2 separate regions of the Homo sapiens genome follow, and region 2 is linked to region 1. Evidence: fine-mapped expression QTL. Tissue or cell type: lung. Region 1 holds a variant in brackets; the other region holds the start of a gene. All regions are shown on one strand. Distances are between the middles of the regions.

What was found. PIP is the estimated chance that this variant, and not a neighbour inherited with it, causes the effect. A credible set is the group of variants that fine-mapping cannot tell apart.
Region 2: it holds the start of PRELID2, and the variant in region 1 is the best candidate, but not a certain one, in a credible set for the expression of PRELID2 in lung (TOPMed, PIP 0.67).

What each region holds. Positions count from the first base shown.
Region 1 is chr5:145,722,362-145,728,580 of GRCh38, reverse strand. It overlaps a transcript of PRELID2 not described here. Among named protein-coding and RNA genes, the nearest start is that of PRELID2, 110 kb to the left of the region's middle. The variant A/G (reference allele first, on the strand shown) is at 3,650.
Region 2 is chr5:145,832,775-145,838,383 of GRCh38, reverse strand. PRELID2 (PRELI domain containing 2) reads left to right here and starts at 3,042. Exons shown (of 7, transcript NM_205846.3): 1 at 3,042-3,207. The coding sequence starts at 3,133. RefSeq lists a silencer at 2,731-2,850.

The sequences.
Region 1 (6,219 bases):
CCATGATCAACAATTCATTCCAGGAAATTGAGGATGATGCTGATGTGGAGTAGAAATTTGCAAGGACCAAACTCTGGTTTTCCTGCTTTGGGAGGGGAGAACACTTCCTGTTCCCTTCAATCTGGTTCCAGATCCGGGGTCCCTGTTTTGTCTCTTGCTGAAGCTTGAAGTGTGGATTTCTGAGCTCTACCCAGGGCCATAAAAAAGGTTTCCAGGAAGATGTAGAGATAAGTAAGTAGAGATAGAGATAAATAGAGATAGATAGACAGGGACTTGCAGGAACTCACAGGAACTAACAGGTATCATAGGGACAGACAGGGACAGGCAGGGATAGATGAAGACTAACAATATAAGGTCAGTGCCCTAAAGAGATACTGATCAGTGCCCTAAAGATGTACAAAAGCAAAGACTAGCAATATACGGTCAGTGCTCTAGAGAGGTACTGGTCAGTGCCCTAAAGAGGTACAAACGTAGAGACTAGCAAAGACTAGCAGAGATTTGCAGGGACAGACAGGAATATTCTGAATTATGGAAATTAGCTATGGCTCAAAGTCCAGTCAAAATCTGAGAGGGAAAGTATAAAATGAACAGAGGGGAGGGAGGTAAGGATAAAAATGCTCTTTCTTTTCTCTCCAGTGGGACCTTTTGGATTCACAGTTGTGCTAGCAATAGGAAATGTTACTCTTGATATAAATACACACTTTATTACATGCCCTGAATGTTGCTTGTTTACCTGCCTTGATTCAACCTTTGATAAAAATCAAACTGTCTTGATAATTAAAGCCAGGGAAGGAGTTTGGATCCCTGTGTCTCTAAATAGACCATGGGAGACATCACCATCTATTTGTATTGTAACTGAGATCCTTAAAAACTCTTATCCCGTTCCAAAAGATTTACAGTTGAAGGCCATTGGAGGCTCTACATTTGTGGATTTTGTTCTGGTGGTTGTGTGCTTGTGCTGTCTCCTTTTAGTTTACAGATGCAGAAGCCACCTCTGAAGAGGAAGCTGCCTCTGAAGAGAAAGCCGTCATCAAGAACAAGCAATGATAGCTGTGGTGGTTTTATGAAAAAGAAAAGGGGGGCATGTTGAGAGGAAAGCTGAGTATTGGGAGAAGCTGAGGCAGGGCTTGCATGTCTGACATAATGTAAAAGAGTCTTGAAACATGTCCAGGGTCCAGGGTCTAAAACCCCTCATGGCCTTTGGAACACCAAGCTCTGTGCTAAAGGGTGGAAGGCTACCCTGACGCACCATAATCTAAGCCCAGGGCATAAAACCCCTCGTGGGTTGGATAGAATCCAGGGCTCAGGGCATGAACCCCCTCATGGCTTTGGAGTGTGTCTAGACTTGCTGGCTCCTTGCTTCTAGCCCTCCCAGTCTCCTAGATTGATTGTGTCTTGGAATTGGCCATATAAATGCTAAACCATCACAACTGTAAATCAGGTGCTTAACGCAGTGCTCCCTTTCAACCCCACATTCTCACCACCTGTTTCTTTGTTTGATCACCAATAAATAGTCTGGGCTTCCAGAACTCTGGGCCTTCACAGCCTCCATACTCACGTTGGCCCCCTGGACCCACTTTATCTCTCAAACTGTCTTTTCTCATTCCTTTGACTCCACTGGACTTCATCACCCCAATGACCTGGTGTTGGGTCTGATCACGCTACCACAATGAAATGTTATAATTTACTTCCAGACAGAAGCTTCAAGAGCTAGTGTACAATTTGTGTGGGCAGAGCAAGCTCCCACAGTTTGAGTGAAAGTTCAAAGTGTGAAAAGTTAATAGACATGCTACAGAAGGTTGAGGTGGAAAGCTGTCAGTGTGAAAAGCTACAGCTGGTGTCAGAACTGGGCTGAGGGAACTGATGCAAGGCAATTTATATTTAACCTACATAATTGTATATCCATCATACTTTGCCTATCCATTCTCCCAGAGATAGGCACCTTGGTGGACTCCAACTTCCTGATCCTGGTCCTAAAAATAGTGCCAGTGAACATACTTGTACATATTCGCCTATCTGTCTACATATCTATCCATCCATCTGTTAATCATCTACTTATCCATCTATTCATCCATCTCCAGGAATTAAATTGCTAATAGGCATTGACCAAGACAGACTTAATGTTCTTCTCAGCTTGACTAAAATTTAGACTGATTTCTCCCTGACTATAGATCCCTGACCTCCTTTTGCTTAGAGTATTTACTTGAGAAAATATGCAATTGTAAATTCTTTCTTTCCCTTTTCTTTCTCTTTCTCTCTTTCTCTCTCTCTCTCTTTCTTTTTCTTTCTTTCTTTCTGTCTCTTTCTCTCTTTCCCCCTCCGTCCCTCCCTCCCTCCCTCCCTCCTTCCTTCCTTCCTTCCTTTCTTCTCTCTTTCGCTCTTTCTTTCTCTTTTGCTCTTTCTTTCTTTTCTGAGATAGTGTCTTGCTCTGTCAGCCAGGCTAGAGTGCAGTGGCAGGATCAGGGTTCACTGCAACCTCCATCTCGTGGGCTCAAGCAATCCTCCCACCTCAGCCTCTGGAGTAGCTGAGACTACTCTGGCTATTAAAAAAAATTTTTTTTGTAGACACAGGGTCTCACTATGTTGCCCTAGCTGGTCTCAAACTCCTGGGCTCAAGTGATCTACCTGCCTTGGCCTACCAAAGTGCTGGAATTACAGGCATAAGCTACTGCACCCACGTGTAAATTCTTTCTGTTTAAATTCTTAATTCTAATTATCAAGTTTTTCCCTATAGAATATGTAAATCTTCTACAACCCAGAAAAGTCTTGCTCAAGGATCTTGGAGTCAGCCTGTTGAGATATAATCATTGAAGGCAATAGAACCACATTTCTCAGTCTCTATGGGAGGGTAGAAGCCTACTCTTGAAAAGCCTACCCTTGGAAAGTGACAATTAGCAAACACAGATGACCTAATCACATTGGCCACCCTCCCTACACTGATGTCCTTTAGTACTCTCTAGTAGTTTTCTATTAGCTCCTCCCAGCGTTTAAGAATCTTACTGCCTTTTGTTTCAGTGGAGTTGAATTCAGCCTCTCTGTGCTATTGCAATAGTATTGAATAAGGTCTTTCTTGTCATTTTAAATATATCCAGTGACTTTTTTATTTTTTAACAGCAGACATATATTTAAGTTAATGAAGTAGTGCTCATTTGTTATCTGGAATGGCTATACTGGTTTCTATTCCATGTATACCTGTTAGCAATGCTTAAAGGTTTACATCCCTACATTTCTACCAACTCCAAGAATTATTCAGACTTCTAATGTTTGTGAGTTAGAGGTGAAGTGCTGTCTCATTGTTTTTTAAATGTGAATTTATCAAATTAACGATGATTCTGAGCACCTTATTATGTTTGATAACTTTTGGGGTTTCCTCCTCTGTAAATTGCTTTTGTCTTTTATTCTACTGGGATTGCTCTTTTCTTGTTGCTTTGAATTCCTTTCACATACAGTCAATAACTTATGAATTTTAGACATTTCAAGTACTTTACTTTGTTCATATTATTGTCAAACAGAGATCCACATTTAAAAAGTATTTGTTGGCTGGGAGTGGTGGTTCATACCTCTAATCCCAGCACGTTGGGAGGCTGATGTGGGAGGATCATTTTGGTCCAGGAGTATGAGACCAGCCTAAGTAACATAGTGAGACCTC[A/G]TTTCTACAAAAATTTAAAAAATTAGCTAGGCTTAGTGGTGTGCATCTGTGGTCTCAGCTACTCTGGAGGCTGAGGTGGGAGGATTGCTTGAGCCTGGAGGTCAAGGCTATGGTGTACCATGATCATGCCACTTCACTCCAGCCTGAGTGACAAAACAAGACCCTGTTACATATATATATAATATATAATATTTTATATTATATATATTATATATGTAATATGTATACACATACATTCATTTTTTATACTTTTAAAGAACTGTTTGCAAGTAAGTTACAGGCATTATATATATATATATATATATATATATATATATATATATATATATATTTATTTACTTCTTGTTATTTCAGTGTTTTCCCTAAAAACATCAACGAGGAATAACAAAAGTATAAGTATGGAATCAGGATGTTTAACATTGATTCAGTATTATTATCTAATCCATTATCTATGTTCAACTTTTGCCAATCACCTTAATATTGGTATTATAGATTGATATTTCTCCCTTCAATTCAGGATTCTGCTTAAGCCTCTTTTGTTTCCTTTCATTATCTCAGACCCTCAGGATTCTTTATTTTTCATGTCTTTAACGTTTTATTTTGTAGATGGCTTCTAAGTTTAGGTTTGTCTGATTTTTTTATGATCATAATTTTTTGGCAGAAATATAAAGATAATATTGTGGTCTCAGAACATCATATCAAGGGGACCATGATACCAATTTATACCGTTACTGAAGCTGTTAACCTAGGTCACTTGGTTAAGGCGAGTCTGCCGATAACCATTTTTCCCTTTGTAATTAACTACTTTTACATAGACATGTTTGAAATATATGTATATTTGCATGTTGCATTTGTCACTTATCAATATATGCTGAACTTATTTCATATTAGCTCATAGAGCTATCCTTTATTCTTTATTACAAATGCATAGCATTCCATTGTGTGTATGCATCAGAATTTACTTGATCAATCTTTTATATATAGATATTTAGGTCACTTCCAATATTTTGCATTTATAAATAAGGCTGCTATGAATAACCTAATGCAAATGTCTTTTCTTATTGTTGGAGATATATATTCAGGGTAAGTTTCTAGATTTGAGATTGCTGAGTTGTAAGAAAAATGCACATACAATTTGTTAGAGATTGCCAAATTCCCCCAACGTAAGAGTTGTGTCATTTACATTCCCACCAGCAATGAATGAGAGTGCCTCACAAGCCTTGCCAACAGAATGTGTTGCCAAGCTTTTAAACTTTTTGCCAATGTGATAGAAGAGAAATGGTATCTCAGTGTCATTTTATTTGCATTTCTTTTATTATGAGTAAAATTAAAATAGTTTCATATGATTAAGGACTATTGTATGCCTTTTTAATGAATTTTTGGCTTGTGCCTTTAACTCATTGTTTTATTAAGGCTTTAGTTATTTCCCCCTTTTAAGTTGTTAAATATATTAAAGATAATAGCTTTTTATCTGTGATACGTTTTGCAAACGTTCCAAAATGGTCTCAATAATCCCATCTCCATGTAATTACTCCTTTGTACAGACCTCTCTACATTGAATAGTCCTGGTCTGTGCACCCAATAGGATATTTGGTACAAGTCTTGCACGTTTCTGTAGTGTTTTTGTATAAAATAAAACTGTGGCTACAGAATCATGGTGTGTTTGTGTGCTTACTTTATATTCATGAATTTCTTATATTTATGATACATTGCATTCCTGGAATAAACTCTGCTTGGTCATTATGTATTATTTTCACAGTATGGTGATGAATTCTATTTGCTTGTAAATATTTACTATTTTTGCATTAGTATTTATAAGCTATATTGGTCTGTAATTTTATTTAAATTTTTGACAATCAAATTTAGGTATCAATATTATACTTGCTTCATACAATGATTTTTGACAATTTTCCTTCATGTTTTATGTTTTGAAACAATTTTTGTAACATCGGGTCTCTCTGGTTATTGATAGTTTGGTCAAATTTCCTTGTGAAAACTTCTGCTCCTGGTACCTTTTTGGGGGGTATAGCCTTGATACAATGTTTTTTCTATAAAAGTTGGTTTAAGTTTTCTAAACTCTACTTTAGTCAATGTTGGTAAACTGTATTTTTTAAAATAAATTATTAATTTGGGGCCGGGTGTGGTGGCTCACACCTGTAATCCCAGCACTTTGGGAGGCCGAGGTGGGCGGATCAGCTTAGAACAGGAGATCAAGATCAGCTTGGCCAACATGGTGAAACCCCGTCTCTAACAAAAATACAAAAATTAGCTGGGCATTGTAGTGCTGTGCCTGTAGTCCCAGCTACTCAGGAGGCTGAGGCAGGAGAATCGCTTGAACCCAGGAGGTGGAGGCTGCAGTGAGCCAAGATTGTGCCACTGCATTCCAGCCTGGGTGACACAGAGTGAGACTCTGTCTCAAAAAAAAATTATTAATTTGATACTGGTTTCTACTAAAACTACAAAAATTAGCTAGGTGTGGTGGCACACGCCTGTAATCCCAGCTAGTCTGGAGACTGAGACAGGAGAATCGCTATAACCTGTGAGGCGGAGGTTGCAGTGAGCTGAGATTG
Region 2 (5,609 bases), 110 kb before region 1:
TGGTTACTTAATCCGGAGATTAAGTCCTGCTTAAAGATACACTCTGGGAGAAACTGATGGTCAGAGTGGATTGAGGATACAGGGCCCAGGACCTACGCTAGCAGGGGGTTTGTATGTCACATCTGGTCTCCAGCTACTCTGGTAAAAGAGGCAGATACAAAATACCATAAACTCTGCAGGTAATTGATCTCTCCTTTGTGGACCTGTGTAGTCTCCCTGGAAGACTGCTTTTTGTTTTCCTGTAAGGAGGGATTGGTGATATAGTGGAGTGGCTTTTAAACATGCATCCAACACATGTAAGAGCATTTGCATCTCATTCTCCTCTCCACTCCTCCCTCTGTATTTCAAGGAAATGCTGCTTACAGGCTTAGTAAGGTGGGGATTAAGAATTAATTATTGGATTTAGCAATTTGGTCATTGGTGACCTTGACAACAGTCGTTTCGGTGAAGTGGTGGGGGCAAATACTGATTGGAATGGGCTCAAGAGATTACAGGCAGCTCTTTTGAGGAGCATCAGTGGACCAGAGACTCGGAATACAGCTGGAGGAAGATAGGGGGTTAAGAGTTGTTTTTTTTGTATTGTTTCTGTTTTTGTTTTTAGATGGAAGAAATTACAGTGTACTTGTTGTGCTGGCTGGAATGGCCCAGTAGAGACAAAAGCTGATGATACAGAAAGGAAGGGGGATATTGCTAGAGAGATGGCCTTGAACAAGAAAGAGGACAGGAACTTTTAGTGATGTACTAGAGCTGGCCATTCAACACAGCTATTATTAAAGTATATAAATTTACAATCACATATAAAAATTAATAAATATTTATTTATTTGAGATGGGTCTCACTCTGTGGCCCAGGCTGGAGTGCATGGCACGATCATAGTTCACTACAGCCTTGAACTTCCGGATTTAATAGAGCCTCTGGCCTTAGCCTCTCAAGTAGCTAGGACTACAGGTGTGCACTGCCACACCTGGCTAATTTTTTATTTTATTTTTTGTAGAGATGGGGTTTCACTATGTTGCCTACACTGGCCTCAAACTCTTGGCCTCAAGTGATCCTTCTGCCTTGGCCTCCCAAAGTGCTGAGGTTACAGGCATGAACCATAGGAGCCTGGCCAAAGAGTAATAAACATTGAAAACTCATCCCTTCCTGCTACATTTTCCATTATTTATGTTTTTGGTTCTTTATGGCTGTCGTATGTGGGTGGTGGAAATACTATGTGATGGTGTGCTTCTGTGCTTCCCTCCCCAACTCCCACTCCTCACTCAACTCCATGTTGCTAAATCCCCAACTTGTGTTTAGTGACATCGAGTTGGCATCTTTAAACATGGTAGGAGTATTTACACCACAGGAATCAGCAACCTTTGGAAATCAGGGCCTTGCTTGATTTATACTTTAAAGGACAGCTATTTGTTAAACATTTTTCAGTTCACCTCAGGATTCAGTGGACAAATGGAGACACTGGTGCTAAAACAAAGTGCTGACAGTTCACCCACAGGAACAAGAGTGAAGGCAAGGCATTTGGTCTGGTGGGTAGAGAGGTGGCAGAGCGATGTGACCTATTGACTAAGTGAAAATGGAAGTAAGGTAATGACTGGAGTATAAGGCTGGGAACAAAGGTGTCAGAGGTGTGGAGGAATGCGGGAGAGTAAGTGGATTAGAGAAATTCAGTACTCTCTTTTTTTTTTTTTTTTGAGATGGAGTCTTGCTCTTGTCGCCTAGGCTGGAGTGCAATGGGCGAGCTCTGCTCACTGCAACCTCCGTCTCCCGGGTTCAAGCGATTCTCCTGCCTCAGCCTCCGGAGTAGCTGGGACTACAGGCGCCCGCCATCACGCCTGGCTAATTTTTGTATTTTTAGTAGGGACAGGGTTTCACCATGTTGGCCAGGCTGGTCTGGAACTCCGGACCTCAGGCGATCCGCCCACCTTGGCCTCCCAAAGTGCTGGGATTACAGGCGTGAGTCACCGCACCCAGCCAGAAATACAGTACTTTCATAGTGTATTTGTCTGGCACCATTAAAAGGCGCCATAGGGTTAGTGGTTATGAACTTAAAAGATGCACAGTGGGTGTGTATTTTCCTTCAGCCCCTTCTGGTGGCTTGGGTAGAGACAGTCAGAGGAGACCTAGATTTACACAAGGCTAGGGTTTTGCCAGACCAGTGTGACTGCGTATGGCAGGGGCGAGCGAGATGGCAAAATCGTAAAAGTCATCACCTCAGAGACCCTCCATAATCACCCTCACTAAAATCATGTCCGCGCCCGTGTCACTTTAACCGATTATTGTTTTTATTTTCCCAGCTTGTTGATTGGGTGTGAAATCAGCCGGCTCATCAGCAGAGCTGGTGTTTCCTCCCTGCGGAATCCGCAGTGCCCACTACAGCGCTGGGGCATAGGAGGCCTCAGAACCGTGCTGAATACACGGATTAACGTGCTGGTTCTCCTAACATCTGTTGGTTGCAGTAAATAATAATACTCGCAACTCTTTTGTATCCTCTAGTTCCTTGCTCCGTGGTGTTTAACCTTAGCGAGCAAAGGAACTTACCTGCAGGTTTTGGTGCACTAAAACGCGGTTCTTATTCCCGAGGCAATCTTTACCTTACACGAGGCCCAAACCCAAGCCTCAGAGGCAGCTGCCTGGTGGCATGAGTAATGCTGGCCTTTGTCACACCAGGCCTTCCTTATTAATACTTTTTTCCCGTGCTGCCAACCACGGCTTATTCTGTGACTCCAGGCGGTGATACCATAAACGCATAAGCCCAAGGTCCAGGTTTCCTGGGGCGGGGCGTGATGGCTCCCAGGCAGAGAAGCTTTTCTCGGCAGGCGCGGCCGCGGGAGGGCACCAGGGCCGCTCTGGCGCCGCCAGCGTGGAGACCGCGGGGCCCCGGGTGCTCTGGGAGCGCTCCAGCGCCTCCCGCGCTCTGTAACCCCAGGCCCCGGACTCTGGCAGTAGGGGCGTGGGCGTGGCCGACTGCGCGTTTCTCCGAGTGGCCAATAAAGTTTCGAAAGTTTGAAAAGCGGAGGAAAAAGGCCACGCCCATGTGGCTGTCCGAGTGTGGGCGCCTCCGGGCCTCTGCGGAGCCCTGGGCAGCTCTGAGCTCGCGGAGGCGTGGCCGGTGCGCGGGGCCCGCGGCGCGCGGGGATGGGGGTCTCGGTGGATGTGCACCAGGTGTACAAGTACCCCTTCGAGCAGGTGGTCGCCAGCTTTCTCCGAAAGGTACCGCCCCGCTTCCACCTTCCGTATCCCGCGCTGCCTCCGCTGCTTGCCCCTCTCTCCTCTCCTTCATCCACGCGGAAGCTGGCACCGCCAGTGTCTCTTTCCAGCTGCGGGCTTTGCTTCAGGGATGTGTGGGTCGAGAGGGATTTCCTCGAAGACTCCCTTTACAGGGAGCGGGAAAAGGGGCCGTGCTTGGCATCACGTTCACACCTGCCCCAGCTGAAAGAAGAGGCTTTCCTTTTAGGAAGAGCCTCCGGGAATCCCAGCTCGTGAGCTCCGTGGAGTTGCAGATGACCGACGTGTGGAGCTTTCCGGTTCATCACTGACCCCTTAAAAGCGAGGGGAGGCCATTGGGCAGTCATCCTGGTTTACTCAGCATGATGGTTCTGCTGCCCCATCCGCTGCTCCTTATTAAACAGCTGTGGGACATCGTGCAGGTTGCTTACTCTCTTTGTGCCTTAGTTTGCTAATCTGTAAAATGGGGAAAATAATAGTACCGACTCATAGAGTTGTTGTGAGGATCCAAATGAGGTAACTTGTGTAAAGTGCTTAGCACAGTTGTGACCTAAATGAAGAAACTGAGGCAAAATCAATATAAAAAGAGAGTTCATTCGAGCCAAGTTTGAGGGCTGCATCCTGGGAGTGAAGGTGCCCTGAGTATACATTCTGATGAGCAGAAGTCGAAAGTGGGTTTTTAAAGGAGAATAAGAAGCACTTCCTAAGTTGTTTACCAAGAATTTATATTAAAATAACATAAACTATTGATTGTCTGTACATTGTTCTTTGTATCACAAATTCCAGGAACTTGAAGATAATGGGTAAGGCAGCTGGTCAGGAACAAAATGCCTTTAACCAGTTGCTCCCAGGAATGGGTTGGGTGAGGAGGGGACCACTAAAGTCCTATACTCTTGTCTCTCTGGGCTTGATTGATTTTGCATATTTCACTGTAACTCACACAATCTGCTCTGAGCTATTTTTCTTTTTCTCACTGCTACTGATGTTTAGTTAGGGCTCTAAAATGTTATTGTTGTTTGTATTACTACAACCGATTTCAATACAGATAATGAACTCTTCCTCAATACTGAGGAGCCCTGAATCCCAAAGACTGTTTCTAGGATTGTGGGTCCTGATAATAGGAAAATGGGAAATGTCTTTGAAAAATCGAAAGCGCCCAGGCCTGGGAGGCAGGACTCCTGGACTCTGATCTGGTTCTATGCGTGGTTAGTTCTCTGGGTGACCTTGGCTGAGGGTCTTTTCTCTAGGCCTTAGTTTCCACATCTATAAGATGAAGGGGTTGTACCAGATGATCTTTGAAGGTCCCCTTCGGTTTTCATAAGCAAAATTTGCAACAGTTGCAATTTGCCTTGGTTAGCAGCCACGGGACATTGAACTCCATATGCAACCCGGAAGCCAAACTAAGGGAGATGCTGGGAAGATGAAGGTCATTTGTTAAACGATAAGGTGTAGCCTCCGTTAGAGGAGGTGACACGGTGGCCCTGGTCACAGAGGAGTGAGGAGGACACTGGTTAACACTTTGTTGCTATAGGGGGCCTCTTTAGAAGGAATGTCAGCTTGCTGATATGTTCGTTGATTTTCAGTATCTAGACTAGTGCCTAGCACCTACTAGGTATTTAATAAAAACCTGAGCAATGAATAAATGAATGAAAGAATGATTTACAGACCTGTTGTAGACTTTGCCTTAGGCCAGGCTTCTGGGCCCAAAAAGTAACAGCCAACACCCAATTTTTTTGTTAGAACTGGCACTTTGGAGTCTGGGTACCCTTAAGCCACTGCTCCTTTGTAAAGTCTTTTTGGATTGTCATCATCAAGAGTCAGTTGATCTCCACCTTCTCAGAACTCACAGGGCACTCTGTCTAGGCGTTGCTGACCGTCTGCAGTGTCAGATGGTGACTTCTGTATGTGTTGTGTTTCCCGTTAGACTCTAAGGTTTTTAAAGGTGAGACTCACTCCTGCAGAAGCACATAACACAATGCCAAACTCTTATTTACGGAGGTCCTGGCGCATTGTCAGCTTTTGGTAAATGCTTTTCTTTTGTTGAATACTTATCTTCTGTGTGCCAAGCTTTGTGTTAAGTGCTAGAAAAATGTGGGAGGTCACCGCAGACCCTGTTCTCATGGAACTGATGGTGTGTAGTGGGGAGATTAACATAAATAAATGATGCGCAAATGAACACAAAATTCAAATTGATGATGTGTACTTATGAAAGGAAAATACATGGTGCTTGAATATAGCAGGGAGGCCTGCTGAAGTCAGAGAGGGTGATCTTTAGGAAAGGCTTTCCTGAAGAAGTGGCACTGGTGAAATGATGGCTGAAGCATGAATAGAAGTTTCCTAGGAAGGCTGGGTGTGTGGTGTGTGGTGTGGTGTGTGTGGTGTGGTGT